Homo sapiens: one gene and its partners. The protein of the gene in region 1 purifies or fractionates together with the protein of each later gene. This does not show direct contact. Each region holds a gene or a part of one and is shown on either strand. Other genes may lie near its edges.

Region 1 (7,038 bases):
TTCCCAAATCATCAAATTCTGGTTCCCTTTTGCTTAACAGTTTTTCCTTCTATCTCTTTTTTCTTATATTTCACTAATCACCAAGAAACCAGTCCACACCTTTCACTTTGCTTGGAACCCTCCAGCTAATTATTAAAGTTTATCACAAGTTCTGCTTTCCATGTAACTGCAGGATACAATCCAACTAAGCTTTTTACTGTTATATAACAAGGATCCTCATCCTTCCAGTTTCTAATAACACATTCCTGATTTTCTTCTGAGCCCTCACCAGCAATTTCTTTAATACGCATATTCTAGGCATGGCGTCTCACGCCCGTAATCCCAGCACTTTGGGAGGCTGAGGCCGGTGGATCACTTGAGGCCAGGAGTTCAAGACCAGCCTGGCCATCATGGTGAAACCCCGTCTGTACCAAAAATACAAAAATTAGCCAGACATTGTGGCACGTGCCTGTAATCCCAGCTACTCAGGAGGCTGAGGCAGGAGAATTGCTTGAACCCGGGAGGTGGAGGTTGCAGTGAGCCGAGATCATGCCACCTTACTCCAGCCTGGGCGACAGAGCGAGACTCTGTCTCAAAAAAAAAAAACATTGCATATTCTTACCAACAATCTGCTTGTGATCATTTAGATATCCTCTAAGACAATACAGGTTTTCTCTACTCTACCTCACTTTCTTGAGTCTTCACTAGCTGAGTCATTAACATCCATATTTCTATCTGCAGGTTATTCAAGGCAATCTAATCTAGGCTTTTTAAAATCATGTCCTCACAGTTCTCTCAGCCTTTCCCCATTACCCAATTTCAGAGACACTTCCACATTTTTAAGTATTTGTTACAGTAGCACCTCATTTCCAGGTACCATAATCTTAACTGTATAATCCATAGCATCCTATTGCAGCCATAACAAATTACCACAAATGCAGTATCCTACCTTTCTGAAGGCAGAACTCTAAAATGTGTGGGGTCTGTGTTACTTTTTGAGGCTCTAGAGGAGAACCTGTTTCCTTACCGTTTAGAGTTTCTAGCGGCTACCCGTATTCCTTCATTTATGGCCCCACATCACTCTGACCTCTGCTTCTATCTTTATATATCCCTTGCCTCACTCTGACACTCCTGCCTCCCTTGTGTGAGGACTCTTGAGATTACATAGGGCCCACCTAGATAATCTATAATAATCTCTTCACCTCAGCATCCTTAACTTAATCATATTTTTAAAGTGTCTTTTGCCATGTAAGGTAACATATTCATAGATTCTAAAGATTAGAATATGGACATCTTTGCTGGTGGGGCAGAGGGACATTATTCAACCCATCACATTTGGAAAGCGTTATCTAATTGGCCACATTTTAAACGTGGTGGCTTGCGTTTCCTTTAGTACCAGGGTACAATGAGAATGGAACAAAAACCTCTTTGAGTGTAACCAAAACAGGGTGCCCAGAGGTGGTGTATGGTCTCCATAGTGCCTCATTGAGTAACACTGCTCTCCTCTACTCTCAGAGCTTTCATTCAGGTGAAATCATGATAAAACATCAGGGGCTGCCATAAGGAGAAAAGATGCAATGACATTTGTCTGTGAGGGGATCATGCATTCAGGGATATGTGTTCAAGTGAGGAGGAGGTAATATCCCCTTGACATATTGAATGTATTAATATATGTACATACATGAGCTCCTCTGGCTCCATTTGGCACAAAATGGCAACTCCCCCAATCTGTTATAAAAGCAGTTCTAACCACATAGTATAGTTTACTTTGTAATATAATACATTTCATTTCAGAATAAGACAGGTGGTAAAGATCCATATAAATTAGGGGTTTCTCAAATCTAGAGTAGGAGAGGTCTTTAATATTAACTCACATTTTGCCACATTTTACACACTAACAGCTTCTGAGCTCTGTCTCTCATTAGCTGCCATGTTGATGATTTGGAGCTGTTGCTTGATAGCACTGCCTGCCAACGGCCCAAAGGAGAGGCATTCTGGTTTTATAGTCAAATGAGTAAAAGAACAGAACGTAAACTTGTCTCATGCACTAAAGTAGATGAGACAGTAAATTGTTTTGATTTTGTTTTTGTTGTTAATTACCAGGCTTGTATCTCTGGGAGCATATTTTTGAAGGCTTACTTGATCCCAGCGATGTGACTGCTCAATGGAGAGAAGGAAAGTCAATCGTAGGAAGAACACAGTACAGGTATTGGTTGTATTAGTTGTGCAACATTAACCTTTGATGTTTTGCTCTGCAATATTTTCTGTAAATACTAAAAGAAAAATAATAGGAAAATATATTTATAAAAATACTTCTATTTCAACTTGTAAAGAATAGAGAAGTAAATCTCATGAATATGTATTCATAATTAAGCTTACTTGGACCTTATGAAATTGTATATTACAGAATACTCCTTTTTGGCATCATATGTCTGTTTTATTTTTACCTAATTATATAGAAAAGTTCATACTCCACATCTTACAGCGTTTGAATGGTGACAGCCATTGAAAACATTCTGTATCTTGGAGGAATAATATGTAAACCTAAAAGTATTTTCATTTTTCTCTTTCATGTAATAGTCATGTTCACTTTTTAAAATATTTAGGTGATATCAAAGCTCTTGCTGTCACTTTGTAGATTTTTGTTTATTAAAACAAATTTGATGAGTTCTATCAGGATTTATTTTTTATTTTAGATTTAATAAAGCCAATGTATTGCTTAGACTTTTTTGGCCTTTTTATATAACTCTTTTCTATGACTGCATATTTTCTGAGTGTTTTTAAGTATATTAGGATTATTTTATTTAGGAAAACTATAATTTTATCATATGAAATGCTATTTTATTAGATTTTGCTTTATTGAAATTAAAAATAAAAACATTATTTTTAAATGCTTATTTTATATAACAGTTGTATTATTGGGGGAAAATGTGAACTAAAGATTCTGCTTTGTATTGGAATTTCAGTCTTTTCTACAGAAATCAGGAAAGGAAAAGCTATAGTTAACCTCAATTTTGTTCTAATTTTTACTACAGCTTTAATTCTTTATTTACTTTATATACACTTGGAAAGCAGTTTTATTGCATGTATCTTTTCAAAGTTAAAAAGTAAACAGGTTTTTAAAATTATCATTGGTAATGATTATTTTTCCTTTCATCTTCATGCTTCTGTTGATCTAATCCCATTCAAGAGCTTAAATAGACTTACAATGGTTGGATTTGGGTGTGTGAAAGTAAATGTGTATTATGTGTATAAATCTAATATTTTGGTATTTGAAAAGTAAATGTGTGTTAGGAATATTAGTCTAATCCATAATATATAAAATTTTCAGAAAAGTTATTAAAAATTCATAAAGTTAGCATCTTTAAGGTTAAAATTATACATTGTTACTATAATAATAGTGAAAGATTTGAGCAAAGAACATTAACTCCCAAAAGAAAGCCAAATGTATCCTTTACTTCTGAAATATTTGTGGGAGATTTTACAGGCATCCTCTAGAGATACTGCGTGTTCAGTTCCACACCACTGCAGTCAAGCAAATACTGCAATAAAGCAAGTCATATGAATTTTTTTATTATCCAGTACATATGAAAGTTATGTTTACACTGTACTACAGTCTATTAAGTGTGTAATAGTATTATGCCTAAAAAAAAAAAATACGTACCTTAAGTGAAAAATACTTTATTGCTAAAAAATGCTAACAGTTATCTGACCCATCAGCAAGTCATCTTTTTGCTGGTGGAGGGTCTTGCCTCGATGTTGATGTCTAATCAGTGTATTGATGACTAATCAGGGTGGTGGTTGCTGAAGGCTGGGGTGGCTGTGACAATTTCTTAAAATAAGACAACAATGAAGTTTGCCACATCAGTTGACTCTTCCTTCACAAAAGTTTTCTCTGTAGCACATGATGCTATTTGGTGGCATTTTTACCCATAGAACTTCTTTCAAAATTGGAGTCAATCCTAGGCCGGATGCAGTGGCTCATGCCTGTAATCCCAGTACTTTGGGAGGCTGAGGTAGCTGGATCACTTGAGGTCAGGAGTTCGAGACCAACCTGGCTATCATCGTGAAACCCCGTCTCTACTAAAGATACAAAAATTGGCTGCAAGTGGCAGCACACACCTGTAATCCCAGCTACTTGGGAGGCTGAGGCAAAAGAATCCTTGAACCTGGGAGTCAGAGGATGCAGTGAGGTAAGATCATGCCACTGCCCTCCAACCCCGGGCGACAGAATGAGTCAAAGAAAAAAAAAAATTGGAGCCAGTCCTCTCAAACCCTACTGCTGCTTTATCAACTACATTTTTGGAATATTCTGAATCCTTTATTGTCACTTCACCAATGTTCACAACATTGTATCTTCACCAGAAGTAGATTCCATCTCAGGAAACCACTTTCTCTGCTCATTCATAAAAAGCAACTCCTCATCTGTTGAAGTTTTATCATGAGATTGAAGCAATTCAGTCACACCTTCAGGTTCCACTTCTAATTCTACTTTTCTTTCCATTTCTACCACATCTTCAGTGACTTCCTCCACTTAAATCTCGAACCCCTCAAAGTCATCCATGAGGGTTTAAATCAGCTTCTTCCAAATTCCTTTTAATGTTGATGTTTTGACCTCGTCCCATGAATCATGAATGTTCATGGTATCTAGAATAATGAATCATCTCCAGAAGGTTTTCATTTACTTTGCCCAGATCCATCAGAGGAACCACTGTCTGTGGCAGCTATAGCCTTATGAAAAGTATTTCTTTTGTTGTTGTTGTTTGTTGTTTTTTTTTTGAGACAGAGTCTTGTTCTGTCATCCAGGCTGGAGGGCAGTAGCGTAATCTCAGCTTCCTGCAACTTGCGCCCCTGGGTTCAAGTGATTCTCGTGCTTCAACATCCCAAGTAGCTGGGACTATGGGCATACGCCACCACACCCAGCTAATTTTTGTATTTTTAGTGGAGATGGGGTTTCACCATGTTGGCCAGGTCTCCTGTCTCGGACTCCTGTCCCCAAGTGATCCACCCGCTTCAGCCTCCCAAAGTGCTAGGATTACGGGCGTGAGCCATCGTGTCTGGCCAAAAAGTATTTCTTAAATAAGACTTGAAAGTCAAAATTACTCCTTGATCCATGGGCTGCAGAATAGATATTTTGTTAGCAGGTATGAGGACATGAATCTCCTGTACATCTCCATCAGATCTCTTGGGTGACCAGGTGCATTGTCAATGAGCAGTAATATTTTGAAAGGAATCCTTTTTTCTGAGCAGTACTTCTCAATAGTAAGCTTAAAATATTCAGTAAACCATGCTGTGAACAGATGTTGCTGTCATCTAGGCTTTTTTCCATTTATAGGGCACAGGCAGAGTAGATTTAGGATAGTTTTAAAGGTCCTAGGATTTTCAGAATGATAAATGAGCATTGGCTTCAACTTAAAGTCACCCAGCTACATTTAGTCCCTGATAAGAGAATCAGCCTGTCCTTTGAAGCTTTGAAGCCAGGCATTGACTTCTCTCTAGCTATGAAAGTCCTAGATGTCATCTTCTGCTGATATAAAGCTGTTTCATCTGCATTGAAAATCTGTTGTCTAGTGTAGCCACCTTCATCAATGATCTTAGCTAAATCTTCTGGATAACTTGATGCAGCTTCTACATTAGTACTTGCTGCTTCACCTTGCATTTTTATGTTATGGAGATGGCTTCTTTCCTTAAACCTCATGAATCAACCTCTGGCAACGTCAGACTTTTCTCCTGCAGCTTCCTCACCTTTCTCAACCTTCATAGAATTGAAAAGAGTGGAGGCCTTGCTCTGGATTAGGCTTTGGCTTAAGGGAATGTTGTGGCTGGTTTGATCCTCTATCCAGACTATTAAACCTTTCTCCATATGAGCAATAAGACTATTTCACCTTCACATCATTCATGTTGTTCACTGGAGTAGCACTTTTCATTTCCTTCAAGAACTTTTCCTTTGCATTCCCACCTTGACTGTTTGGCATAAGAGGCCTAGCTTTTAGCTTGCCTCAGCTTTTGACATGCCTTCCTCACTAAGCTTAACTATTTCTAGCTTTTGGTTGCAAGCTTCTCCAACCCACCTTATTTTATTGTTGTTGTTCTGTTTTGTTTTGTCTTAGGCTTTTAGCAGCCTGAAGCCATGGCTTTTAGTTTCTGTCTTTAGTAATAAGCAGAAAAGAGGGATAAGGAAGGGGTTTTACTGGCCCAACCAGAAACAGAAACTAAGAATCCATGCCTATATTCTCTCCCTTGGACACTCCTGAAAGTGAGAGACTTGCGACTCTTCCTTTCACCTAGAGGGCATTCATTATAGGGTTATTAATTATAGGGAACACTTAGAGGGCATTATAGGGTTAATAATTGGCCTAATAGTGTTGTGTCTCAGGGAATAGGGAGGCCCAAGGAGATGGGGAGAAATGGGGGAATACTGGTTGGTGGAGCAGTTAGACCACACACATAGCATTTATCTATTAAGTTTGCCATCAGATCTTGTGAGACTTATTCACTATCATGAGAACAGTACAAGAAAGACCTGCCCCCATGATTCAATTACTTCCCACCGGGCACCTCCCACAACATGTGGGAATTGTGGGAGCTACAGTTCAAGATGAGATTTGGGTGGGGACACAGCCAAACCATATCACCATCTCATAGTGAGCACATGCTGTTGGAAAATGGTACCAATAGAATTGCTTGACTGGGGATCACCACAAACTTTCAATTTGTAAAAAACTCTTTATTTGCAAAGTACAATAAAGTGAAGCACAATAAAATGAGGTGTGCTGGTATTATGGCCAAAGAGTAATACCGTTTCCTCTTAGGATTTAAGAGAACTATATTCAAGAAAGGTCACCATTGTATGAGATTTTTTTTAAACAGCTTATTAAAGTGTTAGGTTCATGAAAAGTAGCGTACATAATTTATCCAAAATTAATAAACTTTTATGCAATTGTAAGTCTTCAGTTGAAACAACTACATGGGTACTAACTTAAGTGTTTCCACACATTCACCATCCTTGTTTGACCAAAAGTGAATCAGAAGTAACGGCTCACCTTGAAGATATTGGAA
Region 2 (7,038 bases), on another chromosome or scaffold:
TATCTCATGGAAATGTGACTCAGCCACCATCTGCTGAAATGCATCTCCATTTCATCTTGGCTCCCCGGTCCTCCCCAGCACTGCGTTTCTGTGCTGACGAATGAGCACTGAGAGGCTCCTTCCCTGCTTTCTGCTTCTGTCCTGCCGCTATGGGTCGTGGACATTTGCCATCAACAGGCTCCCTGTGGCCCGCGCCTCCTACTGGAGGCACTGAGGGAGGCGCTCCCACCAGCACACCGGGTTACCTGCTTGGCTGCAGGGGTTGTGTTGTGGGTGTTCTGGTTTTGGATGGGGGTAGAGGCCCTTTATAAAGTTTCAAGGGGTGAGCTGGAGTCTACTTCTCATCAAAGAAGCTGGAGGCTAAGACTGACACTATGCCAATTGGAGAAGACCAGAACCAGGGGCTCCCCTGCAGATCAGAAGCGCCTGACTGGAAACATAGCAGGGCGATGGGAGGAAAGACAGACTTGTTCCCTATGGGGCCCGAAGCCATGGGTCCGGGAAAGAGCTAGACAAAGCCAGCAATGAGTGATCTAGATCAGAAGTGGTGGCATGAGGAGATGAGCTTGGCAGGAGGGAGATGAAGGAGGGGCCACAGTCCCAGGCTATCTCTCAGATAAAGGAGGGCAGGATGCTGAAGGGCATATCAGGTCCCTCTGGGCCTGCTGGCACCCAGGCAAGATGTGAGGCTCGACCCACCATTTTCTACCAGGGGTCAAGCTGAATGGGCCAGGGACCTTGTCCTTTCCAGGAAGGGCTTAGAACTTCAGCAAGTTCCAAGCTCAGCCACAGGGAAAGGTGTCTGCAGGGCAGCTGATGCAGTCAAAAGTGCAAGGGGAGGAGTGACAGGAAGCGGGCAGAGACTCTGAACTGCTGGGGTGCAGCGTCTAGGCTGTGAGCTCCTAGGTGGCCTGGGGATCCCTGGCTGACTATGACCTCTGACCTGCAGTGACCTCTTGGCTCAACTGTCCCCCTTGACCATGACCCTCATTACTGTGGGTGCCCCCTGACCAACTGGGAAAGTCTGGTTGACGTGACCCTCTCCTGGGTGGATCCCAATGTGACTGACTGGGACCCTAAGGGGCTTGCTCCCCTTGACCCACAGTGACCCTTCTGCTGACTTTGACTGCAAGACTGGGACCTCTTGTCCAACTCCAACCCTTGCCTTGGTGGTCCAGGCTTTTCCTGACCACATATGACCCTAGGCCAGTGGGACACTCTGTGTCCCCTCCATGTCTGTCCCCCTCTGGCTGCCGGGACCCTGTGGTGGGTTGGGACCATTTGGTCACTGATGTCCTCTTGACCAAGGGTGACCCCTTGACTGAACCAGACTTTTTGGCCACTTGGGACCCTAATGACCCTCTGACTGACCCTGGTCCACTGAGTGACTGCCACCGCATGACTGGCTACGCTCTCCTGACCAACGGGACCCTCTTCGGTGGCTGGGACCCTTCATCCCCCTGGGCCTGATTGTGACCGGCTGCCCCCCATGTCCTCTGGTGCCCCAGCCCCTGCCCGCCTGGGAGCTGGCGTGGGCAGTGCCAGCCGGAGGCAGTAAGGAGTCACACTCACGCCCGGCTGCAGCAGGAGGAAGGCTGGTCGGAGAGGAAAGAGCATTGGACAACGACACGCGACTAGGGCTAGAGAGATTGGCTACATCCTGGCTCTGGCTGGTGACCGAGGACTGTCTCCGCAGGGCCCCCTGAAAGGAGGCCCCGCTCTTGAAAGTATTGACTACTTCAATCTGCAACGGAGGAGAGAACGAGACAAGTTGCGAGAAGAACGAGCACAACGGCTACATGACTGACAGGGCAACGTCACAAGAACAGCCGCAGCCACGGCAACAACGACAATGTCACTTAAATCAAAACAAAAATACCAGACACACTCCAAGGCTCTGAAAAACGTCTGCTCAGCTCTGGGCCCACCTGCAGGCCCCAGGGTCCCCGGGAGGACACAGGGGGTCCGGCCTTTGTCCTGTGCTAGTGGCTCAGGGGCCAGTGGGCTGGCCAGTGGGGGAGGCAGTGATTAAACATGGTATCTGGAGGGAAGAGAGCAGTGTTCAGCCTCCCTCAGGTACAGGCGTGGAGGTAGAGGGTGTGGTGGGGGTCCTGAGGTGGACAGAGCTTGGCCTAAATTCCAGCTCTGTCACTTACTAGCTAGCTGACCTTGGGCAAGCCACCTCTCTGAGTCGAGTTTCTTGTTCTTAAGAAGGGTCAATGCCACCTGCCTGGCAGGGTTATCTGTAAGTGGCAAAGCACCTGACCCGTGTTAGCATTCCGCAAGAGGCAGGCAAGACAGGCGCCCCTGCCCACTCAAGAAATCGCAGTCCTTGCTTCCTCCCGTAATCTGGAGACCCCTGCGTGGCTTTGCCGCCAGGGCAGTGACAGCACCAGGGACATATTCACTGAGTTGTCCTGGACCTCCCAGGAGGTGGGGGCAGGCTGGGAGGGGTGGCTGCGGGGCCCTAACCAGGGAGGGTGAGCCCAGGCCCGTGTCAGGCACCTCCGGGTCTGAAACCGGCTTCCAGTCCCCACCCCAGCTGTGCCAGCTCAGTAGAAGGGGCCATCTCCTGGACCTTGGTAACCTCTAAAACTGGGGGAGTCACATCTACCTCCCAGGGCTGTGAAGGTCACATGAGGTGAGGTTTGGGACAGGGTACAGAGGGGTGGGAGGTGACCCAGGTGAGCTCTCTGCTACATCGGATGGAAATGAGGTGCTGGGCCACAGCTGGCAGGATGGTGGCCAGGTGGCTGCTTCTACACTGCACTTCGCCCAAGCATGCTGGGGCATGGAGGAGCTCCCACTCCAGCTCCCCAGATGGTCTGGGCAAGAGACCCACAGAGTCCCTTCTGACCCTCCCCTCGCAGGGCTGTGACAGCACTTGTGAGCTACAACACCTGCTCCAGGCATAAGGGGACCATGTGAGAGCATGTGGTATGTGTGTGGGGGGGTCGGGGGAGGCGCGCAGGTGTGTCGTGTGCCACGTGGCAGCCATGCTCTCTCTGCTCTGGGGAAGAAACCTGCTTCTGGCTGGCTACGCCCTGCACCTGTGCTCCCCTGGTGTGCTTGGTGTGTGCATGTGTGTCTGTGTGTGCTTGAGGATGACTGACCTTTGCTCCCCAGAGCCTCTCCACCCCCTAGGGGAAGCTGGGGAGAGCAACTGAAGCCCCCGTGGAGGCGGCGGACCCCCTGACCACCACGCCCTGGGGGACCCTGGGCGACCTGGCCTGCAGCTTCTGTCCAGCCTCACACGGCCCCTGTGGGTGGGTGCCCCCAGCCCTGAGCGACAGTCCCCTCACTCACCTCTGCCCTCAGAGCCACCCTTCCCCACCCTCTCAGGGAAATCCCCCTGGAGACCATGGTGGGTGTGACCCCTACCACTTCCCCGTGCTGCCCTGAGAGGGCACAATGGGACCTCTCTGAGGAGGCCGTGCTGTTCCTTAGCAGCCACAGGAGTGGGTGTGCAAGTGGCTGGTGAGAGCTGGCCGGGACCCCTCTGTAGCCACCCTCCCTCAGCACCAGAGCTGGGCCCTGGGGGGCAGCACAAGCACACTCACCTCCATCCCCTGGCCCGCCCCGGCCAGGCCTGGGCCCAGCCCCCAAGAGCCTCCTGTACCTGTGTCTGGATCCGATTCAGGCCTCGGAACCACAGGATCTGGCCCCGCCGCAGCTCCCGCTCCGCGTGGTCGATCTCCTCCACGTCCTCGTTGAGCTCCTCCTCCGGGATCTCCTCCTTCTGTGTGAGCCTGCCTGCCTCCTTGAGGAACTTGAGTCTGCTGGTCGGGATGGTGGCGATGACCTGCAAGGGACCCTGTCTGTCAGGACGGTGGGGCTGTCCTTCCCAGTGGCCTTCTCTCCCTGACACCCGCTCCTCTACCTCCCTCCTCCTACCCGCTCACCCAGGCATGTGATCAATCTACTCCTTCACCCACCTCACCTGTTCCTCAGCCCAGTCTTTGACAATGTCTTTTTTTTTTTTTTTTTTTTTTTTGAGATGGAGTTTCACTCTTGTTGCCCAGGCTGGAGTGCAATTTGCTTTTTAATTCATTCATTCAGAGTCAGGGTACATAGTGGACAATCTTGGCCTCTAGGAGTTGGACAGATGTGGCTTTGAATACCCCAGACAACCCTGGTCCTGTGGCCTCGGGCAAGTCATTTAACCTCACCGAGCTTTGGTTTTCCTAGCTGTAAAGTGGGGGCCGCTCTGGGCATGGTGAGAACTGGGCACGGTGGAGGGTCTAACTCGTCCTGCATGAGCCTGGCCCGTGGCTGGCCCTCGGTTCTCCTGGGGTTACTTATTCCTCTGTCCCTTATTCCTCCTGAGGTCACTGGACCCTGAAGGCAGCCAATCCTGGACTGGGAAGGCAGAATGGGAAAGAGCTATGCCTTCATTCCTAATCTTCCCCAAAAGGCTTGTCCATGGGGCTGAGGACCCAGACGCAGGCCCTACAGGAAAGCTGCGGTGGCAGATATCAGAGGCCCCTTCCATTTCCTGTAGGAGCAGTCAGGCGCTGGCATGAATGCAGCCTCAGGGGGCTCCCTGGGAGTGTAAAGTCAGCACTGCCCGCTGGCATTAACCTTTGTCCTCTGAATCCTTCCCTCAGTTACTGGGCCCAGCCCCCAAGAGCCTCCTGTAGGGGGTGGGCCCCAGTGGGATAAAGATGGCCTGGCCCCCAGGGTGCCCAGGGGTTTATCACTCTCCAAAGCAGCCCCAAAGGTTACAGGAAGTCCTTTTGGATGAAACTAAACTTTCTTATTTATCTTTTAGTTAATTTTTGCCCCCGTAGCTTCTCACTCTAGCCTGCAGACAGCTTGAAGGCAAGAAAAATGCCTCCCACCCATGGGGTCCCACTGCCTGGATGTGTGAGCACCTTGGGAATCAGGCCCCTTAGGCCCTGAGTTGGTTCTGGGCCCTCCTCCCAAGCCCTGTGTCCTGGGTCAGGAGCCTTTGGGCTGCATGCTCTCAGAGCTGTGACAGGGTCTGGAACTTGGGCAAACGTAGAAAAACGAATTGGTGGGAGAATATTCTGGGACAAAGCTGGAAGGGCCCCTAAAGAGCATCCAGCCCAAGGAGCCCCAGAGCTGGGGCAGGCACAGCACTGAGGCCACAGATGGCCACAGGCACAGCACTGAGTAACACCGCAATGTGGCAGAGTGTGTCCTGCTTGCGTTCCCTCTGAGTGCTCTAAAGGATCCTGATTGACGCCAGCCGGCCACCAGCGCCCGCAGACCACTGATTCATCTCCCTTCCTAACAAGCTGCTCCAGCCTTGAATCCCTGGCAGGCCATGGCTTCTAGCTGGAGTTTAATAATGTCATTCTCATTACATTAATGTTTTTGTTAGCTTCCATTTATGACAAGTGATACTGATTTTTCAGTTGTCTTAGTAACAGGACGTTGCCTTTAAAAACAAATTTAAGTTAAAAAAGCTGACGTGATTGAGAGAAAATATTACATAAACAACAGGAGCAGTGGTAGATAGATATAAGGCAAAAATCAGAGCAGTAGTACCCAGACGACCAGTATAGGACCTGGGACAAACCCCCTTGCTCAGATGTCCAGAGATAGGGAGGAGCTTGCCTGGGGTCTGGCAGCCCATTCCTGGGGGTCCTGGATTCTCCATCCAGTGCTGTCTCCCTTGCCCTGCTAACAGGCACCTCCTGCGACCTACCAGGAACTTACCTGGCCCCAAACGAGCTCTCCTAACCCAATGAATATGCACCACATCCACTGGTCCAGCTGCAGTGGAGAGCAGCTGAATGGCTTCCCTCCAAACTGCACGATCACTATCTGGAGGTCACAGGGGAGCAGAGAAAGAGAGAGAGAGAGGCCATCAGGGACCAGCACAGAGGGCTGGGCTCTCAGGGTCCTGCCCAGGGGCTCCAGCCGCTTGCTGCCCACCCCGGGCCTGGTTAGGGTGGGGGCCTCACTACCTGGATGGCAAAGGTGCCCAGCACGATGGTGCAGAAGATGGGGTTCCGGAAGATGCCGTCAAAGACATTGCGCTCGCCGTGGATCTTGCGGGCGTTGATCTCGTTGAAGAGCTGCATCATGACGAAGGTGTTGAAGATGATGGTGTAATGTTCTGAGGGTGGCGAATGCAGGGGCGCGTTCCTCCCGCTGTCGATCTGGAACATCTTCTCGCCTGCCAAGTGAGAGAGTGGGGCTGGGCTGAAGGCAGTGGTGGGGGAATCAGAGGGGAGATGCCTGGCCTTTCGTGGGGGCCTCTTCTGAGCAGTGACGTGAATCCCCAAGACATCAAGGCATGCTTGGACAGTGGGGGGCCAGGGCTGTGCTGTCAGCTGGTCAGAGACTAGGACTGAAGGGTCAGCAAAGCCCTTTCTCCTCTGGGGAAGAAAGGCCTTGGGCAACTGTCTTCCACTTTTTCTGTGGAAACCCGATAAAGGTGGACGGCCGGCTGTGTTAAAGGTGGGCGACATGGCTTCTAAAAAGTGACCTCAGACTGGAAAACTCATTCTGGACTGCGAGGACAGGATACCTGCGGGAGGTTTTGCGCTGCCCCGAGAGTGCTGCTTCTTGTTCCTGAGCATGTCCCTTGCTGAGACCTCTACAAGCTCATGGGGCTGTTACTAGAGATGCCAATTCCTATATGGAGCCCAGGACTTCTGGGCTAGGCTGGCTCTGGACCCTCCCATGTGGCTTCATTCTAACACCTGAGCTGTCACATGGCAGGGCACTGCTGTGTAGACGCTGCTGATAGGGTGTCTGATGCAGTCCTGTATCCTTTTTGTTTTGTTTTGTTTTGTTTTTGAGATGGAGTCTCGTTGTTGCCCAGGCTGGAGGACAGTGGCGTGATCTCAGCTCACTGCAACACCCGCCTCCTGGGTTCAAGTGATTCTCCTGCTTTAGCCTCTCAAGTAGCTGGGATTACAGGTGCGCACCATCACGCCCGGCTAATTTTTGTATTTTTAGTAGAGATGGGGTTTCTCCATGTTGGCCATGCTGGTCTCGAATTCCTGACCTCAAGTGATCCACCCGCCTCGGCCTCCCAAAGTGCTGGGATTACAGGCATGA
Region 3 (7,038 bases), on another chromosome or scaffold:
CTCGTGTTAACAAAGAAATGAGCAGCAACATTATCATGTGTAGGTACCACCTTCTGCCAAACACAATATCCAATTAAATGAATTGATTTAATGTACATGGAAGGCACAATTAACTATACAAAGAGCCCAGACCACAAAGAAGTTTCCTGATCTGTGTGCAAACACAGCCTGCCAGTAAGCACACAGGGATAAGATCTGGGAGTCTGCCAAAATATCAAATTAACATACAGAAGGAAGAGAGGGAGAGAAAAAACAAGATAAAGCTCCCAAATAAAACGAAGATGGAAGGACTGGAAAACTAAGGATAATAAAAAGCTGAAGAGAATAAAATATGATCATTATGAATAAAGATCCTAACAGCAACATTGCCAACTCTCACACCAGAGGACTTACAAAGAAGGGTATTTTATAAACTTTAAAATCAGCAACCACTCAACCACACGTGAGTAATCTGTGAGATGCCAGTGGTTCAACACACGTTACCTTTTTGGCATAGAGCACAATTTTCTGGAATTGGCCTGTTTCTGCAAAACACTGGATCACTTTGCTTGGCACATTTGCCCGAAGGTACACACTCAGAGCGAGCATGGGGTCAGTGGTTTTGACCAAGTCTCCGAGCTCCTCTGAGCACTCCAGCTGTGGTATGCCAAGGGACAAGGCAAAGTTAGGAGGCAGGTAGGGAGCCTGGACCAAGTTTTCAAGCTGTGCGGGGGGGCTACGAGCTCACAAGTGTTTCTACCTTATCTTCTTTCAGCCACTTCTCTAGGAGTTGCTTACGCCCCTGCTGAAGAACCAGATGGCAAAGTTCTAAGGATTCAAGTTTATTGAGCTGACCCTGGTCGAGCAGGATTCCGAAGTACTGCAGCAATGGAGAAGCCTGGCCAGACTGAGCGGGTATACTCTGGAATTTCTGGACCGTCTCTCTGGTACGCAGGATTCCCTAATAATAAATGGAAAAATAGGTCATTGTGTTGTAATCACAGGGGATCCCTTCACTCAACTTCCTTGTATGTAAAAACAAAAATCTGCCAGTGGAAATTCCACACTGCTCTGTCATAGACAAAAAGTCCTCTACCAAGGCAACTGCTTCTATCTTCAACAATAACCATAAGTATAGGGGAATCTAGGTCCTCCAGGTGGCTTCACACTTAGGGTCTTACTTCTCCCCCAGCATGCTGCAGTAAGAATTCGGCCTCTCAATCAGTCTTGTAGTAGTGAAGTTCTGCTATCATTATATTCTAATTCAAAATACTCAAATTCACAGATGAAGGCTAGAAATGGTTTGTTCACAACTACCCCTTGAAAGACAAGAAAAATTCTTTCAAGGACAAGCAACTTGAAAGTCTTTATCTACTCAGGAACAGATCCAGTCTCTGAACAATTTATCCAAATGAAATAAACCCAAGAAAAAGCCATATGCCGAAATGCTATATTCTAAAAGAGTGGAGAAAGTCCAGGGTAGGACTATCGCTAGATAAAACAGGGAACAACCACTTGATGTATTGTACAGTTGCATATTTGACAACCAGGTAGCAAGAGTGGAAAATGCTAAGTTACAGAAATGTGAAACTGTATCTAAGCTGTTGGGTGAGAGGTACGTATGCACACAAAGTGGGAGGCGTGAAGAAGTGCCGATGCAGCAAGAGTGTGTTTTTTGTTTACTTCCTTTACTGTTATGCCATTGGTGCAAAAATTTTAAACTAAAAACTCCTAACATAACACTAATAGACTGCAATATCACTAGTGAAATGCTTTTATGACTTATTTTCCTCTCAAGGTTGGTTCTTAACACTCAGAACACTTGAACAGTATTCAAGGTTTATCACCTTTGGTGCAGACGCTGCAACTTTGGCGGCTTCAGCATAGCTGCCCTGTGCAAAGAGGGTATTGAATTTTCTCACAAACAACTTCTCTGCCCCAGCCAGGTTACTACGAACGGCCAAACGCAGACCAAGGTCTGGATTCTGAAGCACGTTGGTTGCATAATTCACAATGTTATCTTCCTCAACACAAACTGACAGTACCTGTAAGGACACAACAAGTGAGAGCAGCCCGGCCTAGAAGAGTGCTCCACCATCCCTCTGCCATGTTCCCTTCCGATGCTGGAGTGGTAGCCACATTCTCAGGCGAGTGTTGAGCACACCTGTGATGGTGGCCCTCACAGTGAAAGGAGGCAAAGCAGCCGAAAGCCAAATGGTAACAAAACAGAACAGCATAGGAGTCTATGTAGTTATTAAAGTCACACAGATAAGTGTGATGCGTTCTGCGCTACAGCAAAATGACCTATGTGGATGGAACTGACAATTTTTCTTCTTAAACTTTTTATTTTTAAAGTACAGAGTTTCTTTCTTTTTTAAAAAATATTTTTGTAGAGACAGGGTCTTACTATGTCGCTCAGGCTGGATTCAAACTCCTAGCCTCAAGCAATCCTCCTGTCTCAGCCTTCCAAAGTGCTGGGATTATAGGAATCAGCCACTGTTCCCGACTTTTTTTTTTTTTTCCCCTGAGACAGGCTCTCACTGTTTCACCCAGGCTGGAGTGCAATGGTGTGATCACAGCTCACTGCAGCCTCAAACTCCTGGGCTCAAGCCATCCTCCTGCCTCAACCTCCCATGCAGTTGGGATTACAGGCATAAACTATTGTGCCCAGCCAAGAGTTTCTTCTTTTAACTATCTTTTTCAACTATGGTTGAGAAAAGTTACTTAAATACCATAGTATCTGCTTTTTCAACCCTCCCCAGTTAGGGTGTGCATGGTATAAAGATGATGTGCATCAGAACTGCTGTTCTATACGCAGGAAGGAGCTGCTCTCCTCCTGGAATCAATCCTGTGTTAGGAATGGTGCTGTCTGAAGAGAGGAAGTGTCAATATGAAGGAGGAGACATGGGTTTAAGTTTAATAACAGGAACTATTAATAGCTACACCCAGCTGCTTTCCTAGAGAAGGGGGAAAGTTTAAACGCCAGTCCCTAATGAATGGAAAAGGTAGAAAATGAAATGTCAGAGTTACACACCTGTCCCTTTTTGTTGACACCAATAATTCCAGAGGTTGGTTTGTGTGGAGCAGTGACAAATATTGTGTCAGCACTAATACGGTTCATGCAGATGCACACGCCAGACTCTAGGTCGTACAGATGAAGATAGCCATACTTTGTGATCAAGTAAATAACACCATGTTTAGCTCCAATCTATAAGAAGACAGAGAGCAAGAGGTTGGAAAGTAAGGAGGAGAAGCCATGCGGGTAAAAAGAGCTCACAAATGATAAAGAGGATTCTTGTTTGTTTGTTTGTTTTTTGAGATAGGGTCGTGCTCTGTCACCCAGGCTGGAGTGTAGTGGTGCCACCATAGCTCACTGCAACTTCCGACCTCTGGGCTCAGGTGATCCTCCCATCTCAGCCTCCAATGTAGCTGGGACTACAAGTGTGAGCTGCCACACCTAGCTATACAAGGATTCTTCAGTTTCTCAGGCCGAGAGATTACTGGTGGGAGCAATGCTTTCCTGAGACATGGATTCTAAGTTGTACTTGATTGAGAATTAGTTTTAAAGACAATATTTTGTCCAACCACTCTCAAATAAAGGTCCAATAAACTCAGGCTACTCCATTTATCTTTCAGGTAGAGCGATCCTTTCACAGTTTATCGAACCCCTTTAAGCAAGCTGTGAGTTCATAAGAGAAGGGGAAAGTTCTGGACAAAGACCTCAAACGCCAAGATGATGTTCCAGCATGCCTTCTACCACCACTTATTAACCTTTGAGTTTTGCCAAATGCTATTAACTTTTACAGAAAAATATTTAACACACAAGAAAACCTGAAGGGGCTGGGGAGAAAAAACAGATGCATTTGCCCAACCAGATTATTAAACATATATATTAAAACAGACAGTAATTTTTGAAGTATGATTTTACCACTGGAAGAGACAGAGAGAGAAAATAATTAAGAGCCCTGAAAGAGAATGAATCATATATGAGAATTTATTAAGAATGAGTGTGTGGTGGCTAATGACTATAGTCCCAGCTACTTGGGAAGCCAAGGCAGGAGGATCACTTGAGCCCAGGAGTTTGAGTCAAACCTGGGCAACGTAGCAAGACTCCAACTCTAGAAAAATAAATAATTAGTAGGTAACATATTAGTGGAAAATAGGCACTTTAATCAATATATAACATATATTATTAATATAGTTAGCTAGCTATCTGGAGATGGAGGTAAGAGTAAAGAACTGAATTTCTATCTTACTCTTTAGATCAAAGTAAATTCCAGATGGGTCAAAGATTTTAAATAAAAAACAAGGACAATTAGGATAGGAATGAAAGAAAATATAGGTAAATGTTGTGATCATCTTCAGGTGCAGAATTAGTCTCAAAACATGATACCACTGCCACACAAAAATGCAGCACTTCCATAAGGTGCCACATATCACAAATTACGACTGGGAAAAATATTCAAAATACATCAGACACTTAGTACTCTACAAGTACAAAAAGCTCTTACGAATAAGGTAAAAATCCTGGAGTTGGGCACAGTGACACACACCTGTAACCCCAGCTGCTTGGGAGGCTGAGGCAGGAAGATCGCTCGAGGCCAGGAGTTCAAGACTGGCCTAGGCAACATAGCAAGACCCCATCTCTACTTTTTAAAAAAAGATCCCAATAGAAAAAAAATGCAAAGATTAGGAAAAGGCAATTAACCGGATACATATGAGTGGCTGATACATCAATTCTGCCTTGATGGTAACCAAGGGAAAGACATCACAACATGGGATGCTGTCCAGCTACCACCGGCAGCATCAGTAGGAATGTGAACTGGCCAGCATGGTCAGGAGAGTCTGTGATGAGAGTGTGCCCCTGACCCAGCAGTTTAATTTCTAGGAATTTATCCTCGGACTTTTAGACTAACATACAAAGATGTATGGAGCACAATGTTCCTTATAGTGTTTCTTGTAAATGTAAATACCAATCAACAGGGGATTGTTTAAATGAGTTGTAGCAAATCCACAGAACAGATGACACAGACAATAAAATACATACATTATGTTACTGGAACAGAATGATCTACAACATAGCTAGAGGAGTTTATACAGCAGCAAGGCTAGTGCAGAGCCATTTTCATAAGAGTCCATCTGTATAAATCTGCACAAATGTATGCATGTTAAGTTACTTCCAAAGGGGTAGCCAAATTATCAGCAGTGCTAGGATTTCAGGTGATATTTAATCCTGCTGTTACATTTATTGATATTATTAGAAATGTACAGATAACATATATTTTATGAGAACAAAAGAGTAAAAAGGAGAGTAGATTATATAATCTTACATATATAATGTGATGCCAATTTTGTTCAGAAAAGGTATAGATCTAAATTTTTTATAAAACAAATTGTAAGATTTTTTATTTTTATTCTTATTTATTTATTTATTTATTTTTTGGAAATGAAGTCTTGCTCCAGGCCGCGGTGCAGTGGCATGCAGTGGTGTGATCTTGCCTCACTGCACTCTCTGCCTCCTGGGTTCTAGAAATTCTCCTGCCTCAGCATCCCATGTAGCTGGGACTACAGGTGCACACCGCCATGCCCAGTTAATTTTTTATATTTTAGTAGAGACGGGGTTTCACCATGTTGCCCAGGCTGGCGTCGAACTCCTGAGCTCAGGCAATCTGCCCGCCTCGGCCTCCCAAAGTGCTAAGATGACAGGTGTGAGCCAACGCGCCCGGCCAAGATTTCTTATATATTTTACATCCAACTGGTTTATCTACAGAGGAATGTTTTCTGACTCTGTGCCTTTGACACTTCCACAACAATATTCTGCTCCTCAATAAGGAAAGCACACTTGATCCTGTCACGAACACACTTAGCACACACGGAACCACCACAGGCCCTGCTGACATGTGTTTCTGTTTTAGGGAACCTCACAAGAACTTCAGGTCTCATAGCACGAACTCCTCGAAGTCTGGCTAGGCACATGCCACATGCAGGTTCAGGTGTTTTCCCAACCTTCTTGATGTAAAGGTGAATAATTCTCCCACCAGGGGCTTGGGACTACCTAGTTTCACTAGAGGCTGCGTGTCAAAGGCTGGGCCATTCTGAATGCCAGCTCAAAGGACTGTCCCTGGGAGCTCTAGGCTCCCTCAATGGCAGCCAATTGTAAAGGAAATAAGTGTTTTATTCTTTTTTTTATTATTATAAGTTCTGGGTTACATGTGCAGAACGTGCAGTTTTGTTACACAGGTATACACGTGCCCTGGTGGTTTGTTGCACCCATTAACCCGTCACCTACATTAGGTATTTTATTCTTTAAATATTCTCATACCACAGTGAACATCTAATCTTTTATAATAAGAAGGAAAGAGCTGAGGACTTTGATGTGTGACTTGGCAACGTCTTCCTGCTGCCCTAACTCACCCTCATGCCGGGCATTCCTTTCTACGAACAGGGCTTTCCCAGCTCACACGCCAAAGCCTTAGGCCTCTAAATGGGTTTGAAAGCATCACAGTGGCAGGAGACAGCAGAAGCAGACTAAAAATGGCAGCCTCCTGTATCTTGGGAGGTGCTAGAGTAGATTTTAGGACATGAAGATGTTTAGAGAGCAGCACATTCGTACCTGCATAGCCACTGGAAAATCATTCTGTGCCTCTGGAGGAAAAAACACATCTACTGCTTTCTTTACAAAAGGTTGGTTTCCCGCTGCAGGCTGTCCAACTTCAATGATGTGCAACTAGAAGAGAGATTTTAGGTCAATCAAGGGGACCGCCTGTGGTGGTGGGCAAGTGCTAGTCAAGGCACAGAGGCAAGTGGAGCCTCAGCTCCACACACTGGATGATTAACGCTAAAAGTCACATTCAACCAAAGCAGAACAACCCCCTTGTCGGAGTGCCTGTGATTATCCAATAACCTGCTGCCCACCACCAAGCATGGCACAAAGGGCCAATGCCAGGCAGCCTGGAGCCTCAGTTCCAGCACAGTGGCAGAGTCACTTCCCCTCCCCGGGCCTGGATGCCGATGAAACAAAGGGCTCCAGTCAGAATCTGCTGTCCCTTCCAACTCTGC
Region 4 (2,903 bases), on another chromosome or scaffold:
TTTTTTTTTTTTTTTTTTTTTTTGAGACGGGAGTCTTTCTCTGATGCCCAGGCTGGAGTGCAGTGGCATGATCTCAGCTCACTGCAAGCTCCGCCTCCCGGGTTCATGCCATTCTCCTGCCTCAGCCTCCTGAGTAGCTGGGACTGCAGGCGCCTGCCACCACACCCAGCTAATTTTTTGTATTTTTAGTAGAGACGGGATTTCACCGTGTAATGTTAGCCAGGATGGTCTCGATCTCCTGACCTTGTGATCCACTCGCCTCGGCCTCCCAAAGTGGGATTACAGGCGTGAGCCACCGCGCCCGGCCTGTATATATTGATTTAAACACTTCAGTTCCTGTATGATTCTCTTAGCCAGGGCCATGATGGGATTCCCTGGGGATAGGTTAAGTTGTGGTGTCTAAAACCTAAGTCCTGTGACTTTAAGAAGTATCTGCCAAGATTTGCCAAGATTTCCTAGATGCTAGTTTTCCAAAGTTCTTAACTGAAATATTTACCTTTTGAATTGTCAGTGATGTAGATACAAACACTAGATTCTTCATAATTTTATTCACACGATATACTGGGCTGAAAAAGATAATTTCTTGATTAAAAAAACACCTATTAAATGATCACCCAGTAGTGAACATTTATTTATTTATTTTATTGTTTATTTTTGAGACTGAGTCTCACTGTTGCCCTGGCTGGAGTGCAGTGGTGTGATCTTAGCTCACTGCAACCTCCGCCTCCCAAGTTCAAGAGATTCTCCTGCCTCAGCCTCCTGAGTAGCTGAGATGACGGGCGTGTGCCAACACACCTGGCTAATTTTGGTATTTTTAGTAGAGATGGGGTTTCACCATGTTGGCCAGGCTTGTCTTGAGCTCCTGATCTCATCTCAAGCCACCCTTCTTGGCCTCCGAAAGTGCTGGGATTACAGGCATGAGGCACCGCGCCGGGCCGAACATTTAATTTTTGATTGTAGAACTTGAATATCTCTTGCAGTGACACTTTGGTTATCACTTGATCAGAAAAATACTCGTCCCAGCTCAAACATTACCTTAGAATAGAAAGTGAGAATTATTTCATGACGGGCAAATTATGGGTACAAACTAAAATGACTTCCAAGATTGTGATTAATGAGAAATGCTCCTGAAGTAAGGTAAATGTTTGCCCTTTCTCACGTGGCAACCTATGAATTGGAGGTACGGGTGCTTGATTTGATGTTGAGCTGTACATTATAAATTTACAGCTAGAACTTTTTCCAAATGCTGTCTTTAAAAGCAGAACCTTGAGGTCTACTCTCAAATTTTAAAAAGTGGAACCTTTTCAAGAATTACTTTTAATGCATTTGCAAATAGTAATTTGAAACTTCCAAATAGAGTTAGTAATGATAACAAAGTCAGCCTCTTTTCTGCTAATAATTTTCTATCTCAAACTATCTTATTAGCATAGCCCCTGTATTTGTGAAAAGATGGTAACTGATCATAGTACAGAGCATTTCCATCTTACCTCTATGGTAATGAGGATGACAATCATCCACTCCAAGCGGAGTGCCCTCTTCTCATTCAGGTGATTCCGCATTAGATCTGTTAGTTCCATGCAGTGCTGAAGTTTTTCATTCATGACCTATGTAAGAAAAATTTCAGTAACATGTATTTAAACAATTTAATACGGTCATACACATAAAAATTCTATAGCTATACAGTGAAAAATCCTGCTCCTCAGTCCTCTCCCCAAAGGCAGCCACCAACATTATCAGTTTCTTGTGAATCCGTCCAGAGACATTTTGTAATGTACAAATTTAACTGCAAGAAATACTTTGCATACTGAAGCTCTTCTATTTGTAAGATTTTGATGGAAGAACTAAAAATAGGTTTTTGAGTCCTAGTTTTTAGTAGCTGCCCTTTTTAGCAGTTAAAAGAGGCAAACTTGAAACATAATGTTTTTTAGCAAGACCTAAAGATAATTTACTTTCTACTAGAAAATCTACGCTTAACATTTGACCTGCTGTACACACACCACTAGATGGCATTGCTTTCAACTGAACTGCAACAGTTCTGCATTCCGATGCCTCCAAACAAGCTGGCTGTGGGGGTTCAAAGAAAATAAAGTCCCTGAATTCAAAATTTGGATGTGACAACTTTTTTTTTTGTTGTTGTTGTTGTTTTTTGGGATGGAGTCTCCCTCTGTCGCCCAGGCCGGAGTGTAATGGCGGATCTCGGCTCACTGCAAGCTCTGCCTCCTGGGATCACGCCATTCTCCTGCCTCAGCCTCCCAAATAGCTGGGACTACAGGTGCCCGCCACCACGCCCGGCTAATTTTTGTATTTTTAGTAGAGATGATGTTAGCCAGGATGGTCTCGATCTCCTGACCTTGTGATCCGCCCGCCTCGGCCTCCCAAAGTGCTGGGATTACAGGCGTGAGCCACCGTGCCAGGCCTGGATGTGATAACTGTTAAATACCTACCTAATATCTTTATATATCACTTGCTACTGGAAATCCTGAAAGCAAAATTTTAAAACAGTTTGTCTCATGGGTATGCTGAAGTTACAGGTTTGGTCAGTGAACATTAAGAGATGAATCACAGGTACGTGTTCAGGGGTTGATTGGAATGCGTTAACTGCACCATGTTACGATTTTTGCACATAGCATTAAACTGCCTTACTAGGCTGGGCTCGGTGGCTTATGCCTGTAATCCTAGCATTTTGGGAGGCTGAGGCAGGAGGCGCACTTGAGCTCAGGAGTTGGAGACCAGCCTGGGCAACACAGTGAAACCCTGTCTCTACAAAAAAATTAGCCAGGCATGGTGGTGTGTGCCTGTAGTTCTAGCTACTTGGCAGGGATGAGGTGGGAGGATTGCTTGAGCTCAGGTGGTCAAGGCTGCAATGAGCCAAGATCATGCCACTGCACTCCAGCCTGGGTGCC

Evidence for each region.
Region 2: the proteins of RXYLT1 (region 1) and ATP2B2 purify together in Homo sapiens (affinity purification with mass spectrometry; 2 studies listed by BioGRID and IntAct, with this or other methods). This does not show direct contact.
Region 3: the proteins of RXYLT1 (region 1) and CLTCL1 purify together in Homo sapiens (affinity purification with mass spectrometry; 2 studies listed by BioGRID and IntAct, with this or other methods). This does not show direct contact.
Region 4: the proteins of RXYLT1 (region 1) and RMND1 purify together in Homo sapiens (affinity purification with mass spectrometry; 2 studies listed by BioGRID and IntAct, with this or other methods). This does not show direct contact.

The regions. Positions count from the first base shown.
Region 1 is NC_000012.12:63,782,888-63,789,925, forward strand, and holds part of RXYLT1 (ribitol-5-phosphate xylosyltransferase 1), read left to right. Parts: intron 1-2,082; coding exon 2,083-2,185; intron 2,186-7,000; coding exon of another isoform or gene 7,001-7,038. UniProt on the Homo sapiens protein: Acts as a UDP-D-xylose:ribitol-5-phosphate beta1,4-xylosyltransferase, which catalyzes the transfer of UDP-D-xylose to ribitol 5-phosphate (Rbo5P) to form the Xylbeta1-4Rbo5P linkage on O-mannosyl glycan.
Region 2 is NC_000003.12:10,334,557-10,341,594, forward strand, and holds part of ATP2B2 (plasma membrane calcium-transporting ATPase 2), read right to left. Parts: intron 6,149-7,038; coding exon 5,937-6,148; intron 5,794-5,936; coding exon 5,686-5,793; intron 3,803-5,685; coding exon 3,620-3,802; intron 1,745-3,619; coding exon of another isoform or gene 1,573-1,744; intron 1-1,572. UniProt on the Homo sapiens protein: ATP-driven Ca(2+) ion pump involved in the maintenance of basal intracellular Ca(2+) levels in specialized cells of cerebellar circuit and vestibular and cochlear systems.
Region 3 is NC_000022.11:19,232,683-19,239,720, forward strand, and holds part of CLTCL1 (clathrin heavy chain 2), read right to left. Parts: intron 6,707-7,038; coding exon 6,593-6,706; intron 3,188-6,592; coding exon 3,014-3,187; intron 2,025-3,013; coding exon 1,827-2,024; intron 941-1,826; coding exon 740-940; intron 637-739; coding exon 484-636; intron 1-483. UniProt on the Homo sapiens protein: Clathrin is the major protein of the polyhedral coat of coated pits and vesicles. Two different adapter protein complexes link the clathrin lattice either to the plasma membrane or to the trans-Golgi network.
Region 4 is NC_000006.12:151,404,233-151,407,135, forward strand, and holds the end of RMND1 (required for meiotic nuclear division protein 1 homolog), read right to left. Parts: intron 1,605-2,903; coding exon 1,488-1,604; intron 1,036-1,487; coding exon 1,003-1,035; 3' UTR 530-1,002; downstream 1-529. UniProt on the Homo sapiens protein: Required for mitochondrial translation, possibly by coordinating the assembly or maintenance of the mitochondrial ribosome.